2 separate regions of the Homo sapiens genome follow, and region 1 is reported to be linked to region 2. The links are microRNA targets in miRTarBase. Many come from high-throughput screens and were not tested one by one. Region 2 holds a microRNA gene; the other region holds the end of a gene's coding sequence.
What was found. The annotated mature microRNA hsa-miR-3925-3p reads ACUCCAGUUUUAGUUCUCUUG and lies in region 2 at 4,267-4,287, shown strand. An mRNA with a match to its seed (bases 2 to 7 or 8) in the 3' UTR can be bound and repressed. Matches are read on the target gene's strand: a 7mer-m8 pairs with bases 2 to 8, a 7mer-A1 pairs with bases 2 to 7 and ends in A, and an 8mer does both.

Region 1 (8,199 bases), not on the chromosome of region 2:
GTAATGCATCATAAACTCAAATATACAAGAATTGGGTTTGTTATGAAATTGGGTAAAACAAGTGAGACAGGCTCATGTCACCCAGGGGGATGGCAGGGACAACCTTTGACTTGGGGGCTTCCCGGTCCTATTTCCCAGAAGCTGCCTGCAGACCCTTGCAACACAGCAAGGCCACAGTAATGTTTACTGTTTCTCTTCTGAGCTCAACTGTTATCATCCAAGGGAGAACTTGAAGCCTGTGTAATTTCTGCCAAATCATGTTAGGGGTCTTAGAGGTGGCAAGATGGTTGGGGAGTACACAGAAATCACTGTCTGTGCTCTAGCACAGTTTATATCTAATTAAGAAGTTTTGGCCAGGTGTGGGGGGCTAACACCTGTAATCCCAGCACTTTGGGAGGCCAAGGCGGGAGGACTGCTACAGTCTGGGAGATGGAGACCAGCCTAGGCAGCAAGACCTTGTCTCTATAAAAAATACAAAAATTAGCTGGGTGTGATGGTGCATAACTATAGTCCCAGCTACTCAGGAGGCTGAGACAGGAGAATCGATTGAGCTCAGGAGATGGAGGCTGCAGTGAGCCGTGATCATGCCACTGCACCCCAACCTGGGTCACAGGGCGAGACCATCTTGAAAAAATAAAGAAGTTTCAAGGAGGCATTCCTGCTGTTCCTATGCCTTAGTCCATTTGGGCTGCTAGAAGAAAGTACCATAGACTAGATGGGTTATAAACAACAGAAGTTAACTTCTCACAGTTCTGGATGTTGGAAGTTTGAGATCAGGGTGCAGGTCCTCTTCTCGGTTAGACTGTTGTCTTCTCATTGTATCTTCACATGGTGGAGAGGGAATGAGAGCTTTCTAGGGTTCCTTTCACACGGGCACGAATCCCATTATGAGGACTCCGCCCTCATGACCTAATCACCTCCCAAAGGCCCCACTCCCTAATATCATTACATTGAGGATTAGGATTTCAACGTATTACTGGTGGTGGTGGTGGTGGTCGTGGGGTGTGCATACAACATTCGGTCCATAATATTAACTGTGCTTTTCCTCAGCCATTACTGTGAGATTAATATTGTGAATCATACAACTTACTGGGTTTCCCATTTTGTGTGAGTTTGTTTTTGACACAGAGTCTGGTTCTGTCATGCAGGCTGGAGTGCAGTGGCGCCATCTTGGATCAATGCCAACTTTGCCTCCCAGGTTCAAGCTATTCTCCTGCCTCAGCCTCCTGAGTAGCTGGGACTTACAGGCATGAGCCACCACGCCCAGGTAATTTTTGGGGAGTATTTTTAGTAGAGATGGGGTTTCACCATGTTGGCCAGGCTGGTCTCCAGCTCCTGACCTCAAGTGATCTGCCCACCAGAGTCTCCCAAAGTGCTGGGATTACAGGTGTGAGCCCCTGTGCCCGGCCATTTTGTGTGAGTTTGGTGCCAAAATATTTAGCTCACTTGGTGCAAATGTATGTCTTTTAAGATTTCCATTTAAGGCAGGGCGTGATGGCTCATGCCTGTAATCCCAGCACTTTGGGAGGCTGAGGTGGGTGGATCACCTGAGGTCAGGAATTCCAGACCAGCCTGGCCAACATGGCAGAACCCTGTCTCTACTAAAAAAAAAAAAAATACAGCCGGGCGTGGTGGCTCACGCCTGTAATCCCAGCACTTTGGGAGGCCGACGCAGGCAGATCACGAGGTCAAGAGATCGAGACCATCCTGGCCACCATGGTGAAACCCCACCTCTGCTAAAAATACAAAAATTAGCTGGGCATGGTGGCAGGCACCTGTAGTCCCAGCTACTTGGGAGGCTGAGGCAGGAGAATCGCTTGAACCCAGGAGGCAGAGGTTGCAGTGAGCCGAGAATGTGCCACTGCACTCCAGCCTGGTGACAGGGAGAGACTCCGTCTCAAAATAAATAAATAAATAACCCAGGTGTGGTGGCACGGCCTGTAATCCCTGCTACTCAGGAGGCTGAGACAGGAGAATCTCTTGAACCCGGGAGGCGGAGGTTGTGGTGCGCTGAGCCTGCACCACTGCATTCCAGTCTGGGCAACAGAGCGAGTCTCCGTGTCAAAAAATATATATATATACATATATATATATATTTCTGTTTAATATCAGCCTCATTCTTGGCTTTTTTTTTTTGAGATGGAGTTTCACTCTTGTTGCCCAGGCTGGAGTACAATGGTGCAATCTTGGCTCACCGCAACCTCCGCCTCCCGGGTTCAGGCGATTGTCCTGCCTCAGCCTCCTGAGTAGCTGGGATTACAGACGCATGCCACCATGCTGGGTTAATTTTTTGTATTTTTAGTAGAAACGGGGTTTCACCATGTTAGCCGGCTGGTCTCGAACTCCTGACCTCAGGTGATCTGCCTGCCTTGGCCTCCCAAAGTGCTGGGATTACAGGCGAGGGCCACTGCACCTGGCCTCTTGGATCTATTTTAATCATTATCTTTCTCAGGTATCTCTCTAATGCCCATCATCCTTAATCTATTTTTTATAAGAACATTTCATTATTATTCAACAATTCGGAAGCATAAAACGACCCAGTGGAGTAGCCATTTCATTTCTCTTACTTACTGATCTATACTCGAGCAAGTTTGTCCAACGTGTAGCCCACGGGCCACATGTGGCCCAGGATGGCTTTGAACGTGGCCCAACACAAATTCGTAAACCTTCTTAATAACATTATGAGATTGTTTTTGTAATTCTTTTTTAAGCTCATCAGTTAGTGTATTTTATGTGTGGCCCAAGACAATTCTTCCAATGTAGCCCAAGGAAGCCAAAAGATTGGACACCCCTGTTCTAGATGATTTCTATAGCTCACACTTTACTTTTGGAGAACAATTTTTTCAGAAAGAGCCATTGATGCTTCAGCCTTATTTAAAACCAAACAAACACAAACTCACTATAATGACGGTGACAGGCAACACTGTATTATAGGTTTTCCTAACAAAACCTGTAATACTACTTTCAGACCAGAAGACCAACTGTTATGTGGAACTATAAAGAAAATTCCTTAATCAGTATCTTTAAAACAGAAACCAGAAGGATAATGACAGTAGTCTCTAATAGAGAAAATAGTGCTGGAGTTGATAAAAATTGAATTAAATCATTTTTTCCTTCTCCAATTCCAGCCCTATTCAATCATTTTCTGATTCCTCAACTGTTAAGATAAGCCTAGACTGGTCAGGCACTGTGGCTCATGCCCGTAATCCCAGCACTTTGGGAGGCCAAGATGGGCAGATCACTTGAGGCCAGGAGTTCAAGACGAGCCTGGCCAACATGATGAAACCCTATCTCTACTAAAAATACAAAAATTGGCCCAGCTCACGCCTGTAATCCCAGCTACTCAGGTGGCTTATGCACGAGAACCACTTGAACCAGGGGAGGCAGAGTATGCAGTGAGCTGAGATTGCACCACTGCACTCCAGCTTGGGTGACAGAGCGAGATCCTACCTCAAAGTAAAAAATAAAAGCATACATAATGTCAAAAAACAACCACACAAAGCTACCCCACCCACCTGTAATAAAACAGGTCACTTTATACCTGGCTCAGACCAGATTTTTGCTGGTGGCTAAAGAATGCTTTATGGATCAAAGGGCAGGTTGAGATTGCCTACTTACGTTCATTCCTTCCAAGCATCTTACCATAAACATCTGCCAAGGTTATGACGAGCATGTCACTAGGTTGCATTTTATTAGTTGCTGCCAACAGCTCTTACTTCTGATGGAAAAGAATTTAACAACAACAAAAAAACCCAGTATACTCCAACTTATGCTTTTTCTATGCTTTTATCACCAAATGATAGTACATCCATATATAACTCTAGATATTTGTTTTATAGTCCACACACTTGCTAGTTAAAATGTATTATCATAAGCCACAGTCTGTTCAGAATTACTTGGGTAAAATGCTATGTCACCTACAAACCCTCATCTGATTAATATGGAGGTTGTAATCACTGTCTCAATGGTTTCAGGCTCGTGAAACTTCTCATGCTATTTTCTTACGCCTGTGCTGGCTGGCTGACGGCCAAGTCCTCTGCCTCTGCCACTGCCTCAACCCATAAGCATGCTACAGTGCAGTCCAACCTTTTTTGGTCTTGCCGACCCAAGAGCAGTGTAAACCAGTTGAATCCAACTGCATCACAGTCACAGCAGGCAGGAAATTTCAAGGATCGTTAAGTTTAAGATTTGCCAACCTAAGATCAAGTTATAGGTTTTAAAGTGATTTCATTATCGCAAAAGGATAGCTTGGCTGCTGAGTGTGATTTTCCTATGTTCACATGTACTCCATGGGATTCTAAAACAGAAAATTAAATCTGAACATAAATGATCTGCCAGTTCTCCAAATGACAGGCTTGTGGCAAAATAGGAGAGGCAGTGTCATTTTCAAATCATGTAGCTAGAATCTGATCCAAGTCCATAATCAACGTCTTCCCTATTTTCCTTTGGTCCTTCAGTCTGTTATTACTGTTATTACCTTCTTCCCCACAGACAAATGGAAAATTCAAACATGTTTCTACTTGACATATACGCTGCAATCTTCCTTTCACACTGGCACTCACTATGGTTTTCACGAGAAGAGGTGGCAAACAGGTGAACATCTCACAGAATGTAGCTTCCAAAAATGCTGTTTTGGGCCAGGTTCGGTGGCTCACACCTATAATCCCAGCACTCTGGGAGGCCGAGGCGGGCGGATCACGAGGTCAGGAGTTTGAGACCAGTCTGGCCAACAGTGAAACGCCGTCTGTCCTAAAAATACAACAAAAATTAGCTGGGCGTGGTGGGGGAGCGCCTGTAATCCCAGCTGCTTGGGAGGCTGAGGCAGGAGAATTGCTTGAACCCAGGAGGTGGAGGCTGCAGTGAGCCAAGATCGCACCACTGCACTCCAGCCCAGGTGACAGTGTGAGACTCCGTCTCAAAAAAAATAAAAAATAAAAAATAAAAAAAGCTGTTTTTACTTGACTGGATATGTTGGTGTGGAAAGCAAAAATAATGCAATGATATGAAAAGTAATGGTATCTTATTTATTTAGAGTCTTACTCTGTCACCCAGGCTGGAGTGCAGTTGCGTGATCTCAGCTCACTGCAACCTCCATTTCTCCAGTTCAAGCAATTCTCTTGCCTCAGCCTCCTAAGTAGCTAGGAGTACAGGAACCCACCACCATGCCCAGCTAATTTTTGTAATTTTAGTAGAGACAGGGGTTTCACTATGTTGGTCAGGCTTGTCATGAACTCCCGGCCTTAAGTGACCCACCTGCCTTGGCCTCCCAAAGTGCTGGGATTATAGGTGTGGGCCACTGCGCCCGGCCAGTGTATTTTAAAATTATAAAGCCGATATATTACAAAGTAAAATGCAGGGGAAAAAAAGTCACAAGAAGTATAAAGATTAGATGCTTCTTGTGCTTCTTTTTGTAAAATACAGATGATCCTCAAGAAGTAACTTGAGCAGATTTTCTACTGGCTTTCAAATTGATAACCCTACACCCCCTATAAATTTTTACATTCCTTAACAGAGCTAACCATAGGAACTTCCAAATAATTTCTCAGTGGAAATGAGTCTTCAAAATCACACATGGCTCATAAGAGTTTTGCTTTTTTAATGCCTTCTCAAAGGACCCAGACTGCTAGATTTTCATAATAACTACTTTAACCAGATAGACTTACTATAGGCTGGTAGTTCCCCACTAAAAGATACTTTTCTCTTGCTTAGTAGTCACCTTCCTGTGTTCTAGAGCTTCCCTATGCTTTTAAAATATGCATTATTACAACAGTTCTCCTAAAAACAAAACCACCATAAGAGCTGCTGCACTCGGGGAGCCCTGAATGAATTCTAGAGCAGCGCCTGAGTCCTGCATTCTTTCTTCATTGTCCTTTTTGCTTAATTTGCCTGTGGTGTACCATCAACCTTACAATGGAGACAGAGAGAAAGTACTCCACCTAACCTATTTAAGAAACATTTGCAATATACTGTTTTTTTTTTTTACAAGTCTTTAATTAAAAAACTCAACAAAAATATATAATTGAGCATTTTACATAATGCATACATTCTTAATATCTGCAGGTAAGATAAACAACAGAAGGCAAAAGCAGATATGCTGTATTGCTTCTTTGGCAACTCACCAATATCATCCCCTGCAGAAACAGAGTTTTTTTTTTTTTTTTTAAATCCATGGTCTTAAAATAATTGTCCCTTAGTATAAACAAAATATTTAGCAATAATACAGTAGACGGATTCTTCAAATTCACAACAATTTATAATACTTTATACCACAAGGGTAAACTAGTAAGCTGCTTTCTAAAATTAAGGCAGCAGCAGTGTTTAGAGGGGGAGTAAAAAAAAAAAAAAAGACATCCTTTTTCTAGTTATATCCTGGCTCTGCCTTCTTTGTTGTTGTTTTTAAATAACGTCACATTCAAGCTCTACGTCTTGGATGACATTCCTAAGGATAATAAAATCCTTTTCCCTGTACATAAACTGTGTTTCACTTCCAGATCAGTCTGACACTCTCCAACAAAACCAAATACATTTCGTATGAGGCAACACAATTTTTTTTTTTTTTTGAGATGGAGTCTCGCTCTGTTGTCCAGGTTGGAGTGCAGTGGTGTGATCTTGGCTTACTGCAACCTCCACCTCCTGGGTTCAAGCAATTCTCCTGCCTCAGCCTCCCAAGTAGCTAGGACTACAGGTGTGCACCACCACGCCTGGCTAATTTTTTTTTTTTTTGTATTTTTAGTAGAGACAGGGTTTCATCATGTTTGCCAGGCTAGTCTCAAACTGCTGACCTCAGGTGATTTGCCCGCCTCACCCAATTCAACTTTCGTAAGTCAGTATTTACCATCTAACTCAGTGTCCCAGAATTTAAAATTTCCTTGCACTTTACAGCAAAGATACATATTGTGGCTCTACTGAAGCAATATATACATGTCAGAACTAAAAATCAGAAAAGCAAAAGGGTCCATTCAACATATAGCAGCTTATATCTAAATATGTACAGGTATGTATGTTTTCACAGTTAGATCTTTAAAAAAATTTATATTTGATATGTTCAGAAATACTTCTATTGTCTATAAATAATATTTTAAAAGCTCAACTGATCAAAATGCAGTACAAGAACATATCAAATTAAATAAATCTTCTACGTCTTTAAAAACAGATAATTGAAGTCAGTAAAGCTTGAGGTTTGTGTTAAGTGTATTCTGTCAGTCCCTACTACTAGGGAAGGCAGAATCTTCTAAATACGATACGAGAGAAACTCCAAAAGCTTGGAAGGAATCGGCAGCTCCTGAACTTCTTGGGTGGGCATCACTCTTCGGATTGACATGCGACATAAATGTTGCAGGCTAGGGACCTGCCGTGGAGTGGCCCAAAAATACACACTTCCGTCATGTGTCCTAAACAGAAACAAAGCACATGCTTAGTCACCCAAGTATATGTATTTCAGTGTTGCTACAGCTCAAACAACTATCACCCAATACATGTGAGTAGTGGAGTCACAAACTTCACATTAAAACCCAACCAGGAAGAACTAACCAATGATGTATTCCATGACAAGGTAACACTACTATGAAGAACACTTATTAGAGTTTTACTGACAATAAATTACTAGCTGCTAAAAGCCCCCTTAAATTGGCCCTTAAAGAAAAGAGAAAAATGGGCCAGGTGTGGTGGCTCACGCCTGTAATCCCAGCACTTTGGGAAGTTGAGGCGGGAAGATCACTTGAGGTCAGGGTCAGGAGTTTGAGACCAGCCAGGCGAACATGGTGAAATCCCGACCCTACTGGAAAAACGAACAAACAAATAAATTAGCCAGGACTGGTGGTGTGCACCTGTAGTCCCAGCTACTCGGGAGGCTGAGGCAGGAGAATCTCCTTGAACTGGAAGACGGAGGCTACAGTGAGCAGAGATTGCACCACTGTACTCCAGCCTGGGAGACTACATCTCAAAAAAAAAAAAAAAAAAAAAAAAAAGAGAAAAATATATTTACCCAGCAGCTAAAACACTGCCATCAGTAGAGAAGGCACAGCAAAGACCATTGCTCAAAGGTGCAACTTGCACTGGATAATCCTCATCAATTCTCCAGAACCTCACCATTCTGAAAATGAAATAAATTATTTAGTATCTTGTAGAAAATGTAAGGTAAAAGCAACTTTTTTAAAATTTAGAAAGAAATGCCATTGAGTTATGAGTCACAAAATACAC
Region 2 (8,166 bases):
CACTAATTCCTGTTAAGATATGACCTGAGAAATGTTCCAAGCCCTATACTGATTCTTCTCTGTCTTCACTCTTTTTCTCCTCCCGAGTGAGGCCCCATATCCCTCCAGCTACCTGTCCTCCCATCAACTCCACACATTTCCAGATTAATCTTCCAAAACCACCAGCTCCCCACTCCCCCTGCCCAGTATTCACCACTCTCCAGACGTGCCCTTGTTCCCTGGTTGACTGGACTTTTGGCTACTTTCTTATTCTCGTGGAGTAGGGGAGCATCATGGTCACCACATGGGCTCTGGGTTTGAATTCTGCCTCCACCATTCAATGCCTTTACTTCCTCATCCATGAAATGGGAATAACAATGCTACTACTTCATGCGGGTGCTTTGAGGATTAAATGAATAAATATATACTCAAAATAGTGCCTGGAGCCGGGGGCGGTGGCTCACGCCGGTAATCCCAGCACTTTGGGAGGCCGAGGCAGGTGGATCACGAGGTCAGGAGATCGAGACCATCCTGGCTAACATGGCGAAACCCTGTCTCTACTAAAAATACAAAAAAAATTAGCCAGGCACGGTGGTGCACACCTGTAATCCCAGCTGCTCGGGAAGCTGAGGCAGGAGAATGGTGTGAACCCGGGAGGCGGAGCTTGCAGTGAGCCGAGATCGCACCACTACACTCCAGCCTGGGCAACAGAGCGAGACTCTGTTTCAAAAAATAAATAAATAAATAAATAAATAAATAAATAATAGTGCCTGGCATGTTTTGAGCTTTTGTTCACTTTTATTATTTATATTGTTGTTAGTCACTAAAATGTCCATAGAGGATGGATTTTGTTTTGTATACCAAACCTATCTCAGTGACTAGAACAATGTCGAGCACGTAGTAGAGGCTCAATTAATAGTGTTGAATTTTTCTATTCTGTAAACTCTGTTCCAGCCAAACTCTTTCCCATGACATACCTTATACATTACCACCTCTCTGCCTTTGCTCATGCTGCTCCCACCTCTTAAAGGGCCCTTGCTCCATCTCACATAACTCCTACCAGCTCCAGCTGCCCCTCTCCTCAGAAGCCCTCCCTGGACTCAGAACCTGCACAAAACAAATGTTCAGTGGTTTGTGGCTAAGGTTTTTTTATGCTTTGGCTCCAAAACAGAGTTTCCTCTCTTCCTGGCACTTAGTGCTCACCACCTCCGGAGATGGCCCCTAAGAAGTGGACCACCCTAGCTACTATATATATGTCCTTTATCTCATGGCTTTGACATTCAGAAAGGGCTTCCCAGGTGAAGCCATCTGAATTACTAGACATAACCAGACATGTGGTCTCCAAGCCACATTTTCTGGGCTTCTTAATTGGTGAGTTGAGAGACACGGCATCTGTTTGCCCAAGAAATCTGAGCCAAGCAGTTCCACATCAACAGGCTGCTTTCCACCCTGGACGGCACAACAGCTGCCTAAAACTTAGCTGTTTACACACTAAAAAAAGAAATTCCATGGAGACCAGTTGACTCAAGCCAGCTCCCAGTGTGAGGCAGAGAAGGGTTTCAAAGCAATCCCCAATGACACCAAAAGCTCTCCACCCAGTTCTCGATAAAAATAAAAAAGAAAACAAGAGCGAAATTAGAGCCAAGAATGAAGACTGCCTGGAGGATGAGGTGTTGGAAGCTGGAGTTGGACTGGGAATCAGCCTGACAGTTCCCTCCAGGCAGGCTTGTCCGCTGCCACCCCTGTCCCCACCGCAGGGATGGGACACTCACCACTTCTTGAGAAAGCCCATTTCGCCATTGGGAAGGTTTATTAAACATGAAATGAGGGAAAAGCCTAGTAGCTCCATCGGATTGGGAAGAATGGCAAAGAGAGACAGGAGTCATTTTCTAGAAAGCAATCTTCACACCTGTTGGTCCTCACCCATTGAATGTCCTCACCCAATCTCCAACACAGAAATGAGTGACTGTGTGTGCACATGCGTGTGCATGTGTGAAGGTATGAGTGTGAATGTGTCTATATGGGAACATATATGTGATTGTATGTGTGTAACTATGTGTGACTGGCAGCGTGGGGAGTGCTGGTTGGGAAGGTCCTCTCTGGAAGGCTGGGAGTGCAGAGGACAAGAGACTGACCTTGCTGAGTGGAAGCCATGGGCCAGGCTCTCCCCAGTCCTCATTGCCTAGAATGTCTTCTCCACACCCACCAGACGAGTACCACTCACACCCTAGACCTTCTTCTAAGTGCATCACGTACATAGCTCTTTTCATCCTCACACACTGCCGGGAAGGTAAGCTTGGTTACTTCTGCCATTTTACAGGTGGGGAAACTGAGGCTAAGAGAGGTTAACTTCTGCCGGCAACACTTGGAAATGGTTGGTATGGTTGGAAGCCGGCACCGCTGGGCCCAGGGTCTGGGGCTAAGTGGAATTCAGTGTGGGTCTTTCCTTTCCCATTAGAACCCCTCAAGTGTCAGACCCTCTGCCCCTCCTCGCAGTACTTCCGCCTTGCCTCATGCCTCCCAGGCACTATCTCTGTGAACTTTGAGCTCTGCCCCTATTGCCCAAGAAAGGCTCGCTGATGAGGAGGAAATTGCCCAGGTTTATAGTTTCCTCCCAGCCTCTCTGGCGACACCTGAGCCTGCTGCTTCTCCCCTTCCGCCTCCCGCCACAGTCATACACACAGCCACTCATGCATACTCACATCACACCACACTCCAACCAGCACTCCCCACGCTGCCAGTCACACATAGTTACACACATACAATCACATATATGTTCCCATATAGACACATTCACACTCATACTTTCACACATGCACACGCATGTGCACACACAGTCACTCATTTCTGTGTTGGAGATTGGGTGAGGACATTCAATGGGTGAGGACCAACAGGTGTGAAGATTGCTTTCTAGAAAATGACGCCTGTCTCTCTTTGCCATTCTTCCCAATCCAATGGAGCTACTAGGCTTTTCCCTCATTTCATGTTTAATAAACAAGCCGCTCTTGCGGAACGATGGTTGGATCCCTCATCAACCACCACACACTCCCGACCCCACCCTCCTTCCTGCCCCTGCCAGCAAACCTGACAGGTCCAAGGCCTGGAATTGAGAACCTGTTTTCTTCCCCATCCTGCCCCCTTGTGACGGGAGCCTAGAACTGCTGGCTCTGCGCCCAGAGGTTAACCACATTTCTCAGGAAGGTTCCAGTAGCCAGGCGGGTTGTTAGGAGAGGTCTGTATCCAACTCCCCTCCTCCTGCAGAGGGGCAAACTAACTAAATGAAGATCCACTCTTCCTTCACCCCGATCCTCAGGGCCACCAGAAGAGCTGACTGCTGTTTCACAGGCACACTCCACTGGCACAGGAGATGGGTGGGTGTGCCAACTGGACCAGCATATGGCAGGACCCTTATGATGATCAAGCCTACAGTCATCATACAATCACAGGATTGTTGCCCTATATCCATATTTTCTTGACACCCTAATAGTGCATTTGGCTAAACCTTGGTGAAATAGGCATGACAGCATGTGACTGTGCCGCCTCTGACACTGACCACCCAGGCCTTTCTCTTCACTCCTTCCCTGAGGCCTTGGAGGGTCTGCCTGTGGCCTTTAGTCTGGTGTTTGAGCTCACAGAACTGGGTGTGGTTGACCCTCCCTTTGTCCTCACCCCCTCCACACACACACAGGGATGCTCTTGCAGGCTCCTGGTTTGATGAGGCAGCCCAGGATGTGTCCCCACCTTTCCTCTTTGAGCCCAGGGCCAGTGTATTTCAGGCCGAGTGATTTCACCCAGGGTCTTGTTTCCATTCCATTTTATTTTTAGTCCTCAGGTGCAGTGGGATGAGTCCCTCCTATTCCCCAGGTGATGGCTGGCTGTCATCATTGGTCCTGACTAGTCACCTCTTGCTTCATGTATTCCCCCCTCACTCCATTGTCATTTCCATGCCCCCACCCCACAGGCAGCCATTCTACTATATCCTTTATTTGTATGTGTTCTTGTGCAGTGCTTTGTAGGCATGGATTTTGGTACTGCAAAGTGCTGCATTGTACACATAGTATTGCATAGTGTTGCCTTATTACCATTTCTGTAACAAACTGAATGTGTTACTTTATGTTGGAGCGTGGTGGAGCCTTAAGAATTTATTGAGAATCTCTGCATTAATGATTATGAAAGTGACTGCAAGTTTTCGCTGAGTCTTATTTCCTGAACATAAACTCAGGATCCTGGACCATGGTCATGTGGGAATAGCAAGAGAACTGAAAGTGGAGCCTGTCACATCTCCAGACTCCAGTTTTAGTTCTCTTGCTATTTCCACCACATCTTTCATCACTTCCTCCACTAAAGTCTTGAACTCCTCAAAGCCATCCACGTGGGCTGGAATCAACTTCTTGATGATGGATGAAGCCACTTCCTTGTGGCTGGAACCAACTTCTGTGTTTCCTAAAATGGGGACAGCAATAGTACCTACTCTCTAAAATTTGTTGTGGGCTAGGTGCGGTGGCTCACGCCTGTAATCCCAGCACTTTGGGAGGCCGAGGCAGGCAGATCATGAAATCAGGAGATCGAGACCATCCTAGCTAACATGGTGAGACCCTGTCTCTACTAAAAATACAAAAAATTAGCCGGGTGTGGTGGCGGGCGCCTGTAATCCCAGCTACTCGGGAGGCGGAGGCAGGAGAATCACTTGAACCTGGGAGGTGGAGGCTGCAGTGAGCCAAAATCACGCCACTGCACTCCAGCCTGGGCGACAGAGGGAGACTCCGTCTCAAACAAAAAAGAAAATATTTTTTGTGAAGATCAAATGGGTTAATACAAGTGAAGAGTGCCTGGCACTACTAGTGCTCAGTAAACATTGTTTATGGATGCTTTCTTTTTTTTTTTTATTAGGCCTTATAATAGCCCTATGAGGTAATATAATTAGTTCCATTTCACTGATGAAGAGACCAAGGTCCAGGGAACAAAACAACTTGCCCAGGTTTGCATCATGATACTGCCAGAAGCTAAATCTAGATCTTCAGACCCCAAGACGGCCACAGGACCTCGATCCCCATGTGTTCCCTAGAGGTGTTGTGCAGAACCTTCCTGATGCTGATCTGGATGACGAGCGGTCACCCACAGGCTGCTGGAGATGATTCCTGGTCGGGTGGCCCTCAGTCCTCCTTGATCTTTCTCCCACACTGTGATCTTCACACCCACTGGCCATTCCTGAGAAAGAACCTGCCTTCTCCAGGGCTTTTGTGGGTGCCCATGTTCACCAAGCAGCCTCTAAAGTGATGTGAATCCTAGCGCCAGGCCTGGTAGTAGCACATATGCATGGTAGATGCGTGCTGGAAAAGCAGGAGCCCTAGGAGCCTGCCTTGGGTTCTAGTCCTAGCCATCCATTGCCTCACCCTAGGGTCTAACTTTCTATCTCTAACCTTCAGTTTCCACATCTGCACAATGGGGATAGGAACTTTTCTGTGAGGATCAAGTAGGTTTTAGGAGACTATTCCAATCTTGATCAAATACTAACAGTCGCCTGAACCCTGCAGAACAATCCCTGCTTGTTGTACAGTCTGATGCCACCTCAGATGAACCATTACCCACTGTATGCACTGAACATTTTCCCCTCCCCTCCAGGAAGATCATCCTCTGGATCTGCCCTCCTCACAACGGCCTTATTGCTTTTCTGGAGTCACCGAATCTTAGAATATCGGTGCTGGAAAAGAACTTGAGGACCATCAGTCCCAGTGTGGCAAACTTATCTCCTTATCAAGGACCCCCGCTGCCTAAAGCAGTGGTTGACTCAGTCATTGCTCCCCTCACTGCAGGGTGCAGTGTGAAGAGGGGACAGATCATCCTGTGAGTTACAGGCCACCTTCAGCCCAAATACCCCCTTTCTACAGATAGGCAAACTGAGTAAATGATGATCCCAACTTCCTTCACCTGACCCTCGCCTCAGGGCTACCAGGAGATAGGGACGCCATGTTGGCACAGGAGATGGGTGGGTATGCCACCTTCCCCATGGGCAGGCCCCTATTGCGGTCACATCTCAAGTGACTACTTACAACCATCAAACAATTAGGGTTTACTGGTGGATGTCTTTATCTTTTTGACATTCTGTAGAATTATGCTAACAGATTTTGGAAAACAATTTGCCCAAAATCTACGTGACTTCATCCTTTGATTTTTGTTTGTTTGTTTGAGACAGGGTCTTGCCCTTCACTCAGGCTGGAGTGCAGTGGCGCCATCACAGCTCACTGCAGCCTTGACCTTCCAGGCTCAAGTGATTCTTGTGCCTCAGCCTTCCAAGCGGCTGGGATTACAAGCGTGCACCACCACGCAGCTTTTTTGTTTTTTTGGTTTTTTTTTTGAGATGGAGTCTTGCTCTGTCACCCAGGCTGGAGCGCATTGGCGTGATCTCGGCTCACTGCAACCTCTGCCTCCCGGGTTCAAGCGATTCTCCTGCCTCAGCCTCCCAAGTAGCTGGGACGACAGGTGCGTGCCACCACACCCAGCTAATTTTTGTATTTTTAGTAGAGACGGGGTTTCACCATATTGGTCAGGCTGGTCTTGAACTCCTGACCTCATGATCTGTCCTCCTCAGCCTCCCAAAGTGCTGGGATTACAGGCATGAGCCACCGCACCCAGCCATGCCTGGCTAATTTTTGTATTTTTAGCAGAGACAGGGTTTCGCCATGTTGGCCAGGCTGGTCTCGAATGTCTGGCCTCAAGTGATCTGCCTGCCTCGGCCTCCCAAAGTGCTGGGATTACAGACGTGAGCCACCACACCTGGCCTTAATTTTTGTATTTTTTGTAAAAATGCAGTTTTGCCATGTTGCCAGGGTGACTTCACCCATTTTCAATGCAGAATTTTAACACAAGAGTGTACTTTAGCCAGTGAAATGTGCACGCTTACTTCTTTTAGGAAAAAACTGAAATATTTGCTGGGAACCCCACAACAGTTGCCACAGGAAAGACCAGAAGAAAGCAAAAACAGGTAAGGAGCATCCTTTAAAGTGAGGGGAGGCCGGGCTCATGCCTATAATCCCAGCACTTTGGGAGGCCAAGGCGGGCAGATCACTTGAGGCTAGGAGTTCGAGACCAGCCTTTAGCAACATAGCCAAACCCTGTCTCTAATAAAAATACAAAAATTAGCCGAGCATGGTGGCACGCACCTGTAATCTCAGCTTATTGGGAAGCTGAGGCAGGAGAATCACTTGAACTCAGGAGGCAGAGGTTGCAGTGAGCCAAGATCGCACCACTGCACTCCAGCCTGGGTGACAGAGCAAGACCTTGTCTCAAAAAAAAAAAAAAAAATGTGAAGGGAAAGCCCACAATGATAGCACTTTCATGCTGGCAAGCCCACGGATGGTGCATACTCAGTGTCTCTGGGGGAGCAAAACTCAGGAGCCGACAGCCCTCACCTAGTCAGGTGGTTTATTCACAAACTGTCCACTCCCAGGACTTCAGGATGGGGCAAGTCACAAAGCAGGATGTTTTCAGTGGGGAATGTTTAAGTCCTTCAAGGAAAATACCGTATCATGAGCTTTTCAGGGACAGGTATCTGTGACCCACCTGTGTGCAATGCCTCTGTGGTCCTGATATTCTGGTGCTGGGCTTGGACTCAAGCTGTGGGTTTCAACCCAGCTTAACCTTATCTGCATGACCTTGGGGAAGGCACTTCCTCTTTCTGGAATTCAATTGTCTCGTTTGCAAAGTGGGACCATGATATCATCTCTACAAAACCCTCTAAACACAAATGAAGAAACTTCCCATACCAAGCACCCAGAATAAAGAAAAAGGCTAGAAAAACCAGAAGCTATTGAATCACTTTTTTCCCTTTTTTTGCTTATATGTGCTAATTTTTCTACCATGGTCATGGGTTACCTTTGAATTATTATAAAAGTGAGTAATTAAAGGGGGTGGAGCAGAGCTGATGTGAAGGAAAACGCTGAGCTTGGCAACTTTCAGGGCCTCCTCTGTGCCAGGCACAGTTGCTGATGCTTCACCTATGTGACCTCATCTCTTTGTCCCAACAAGCCTGAAAGGGAGGCATTATGGCTCCTACTTCCAGCTGGGGAGACTGAGGTTCCCGAAGGAGTCAAGCCCTCACTATCATGAGAGCCTGTGGTGATGGTGATGTACCAGGAAGGCGCATACAGATGTGTGGCAGCAGCAGCAAGGTGAGCACTGCAACTCTGA

Region 1: miRTarBase lists WSB1 as a target of hsa-miR-3925-3p. Seed matches in the 3' UTR shown: 8mer at 5,097-5,104.

Annotation. Positions count from the first base shown.
Region 1 is chr17:27,311,402-27,319,600 of GRCh38, reverse strand. WSB1 (WD repeat and SOCS box containing 1) reads right to left here. Exons shown (of 9, transcript NM_015626.10): 8 at 7,985-8,092; 9 at 3,675-7,391. The coding sequence ends at 7,232. Among named protein-coding and RNA genes, the nearest start is that of LINC03146, 17 kb to the left of the region's middle.
Region 2 is chr6:36,618,567-36,626,732 of GRCh38, reverse strand. It overlaps MIR3925 (microRNA 3925), which reads left to right and starts at 4,221; the gene lies at 4,221-4,297.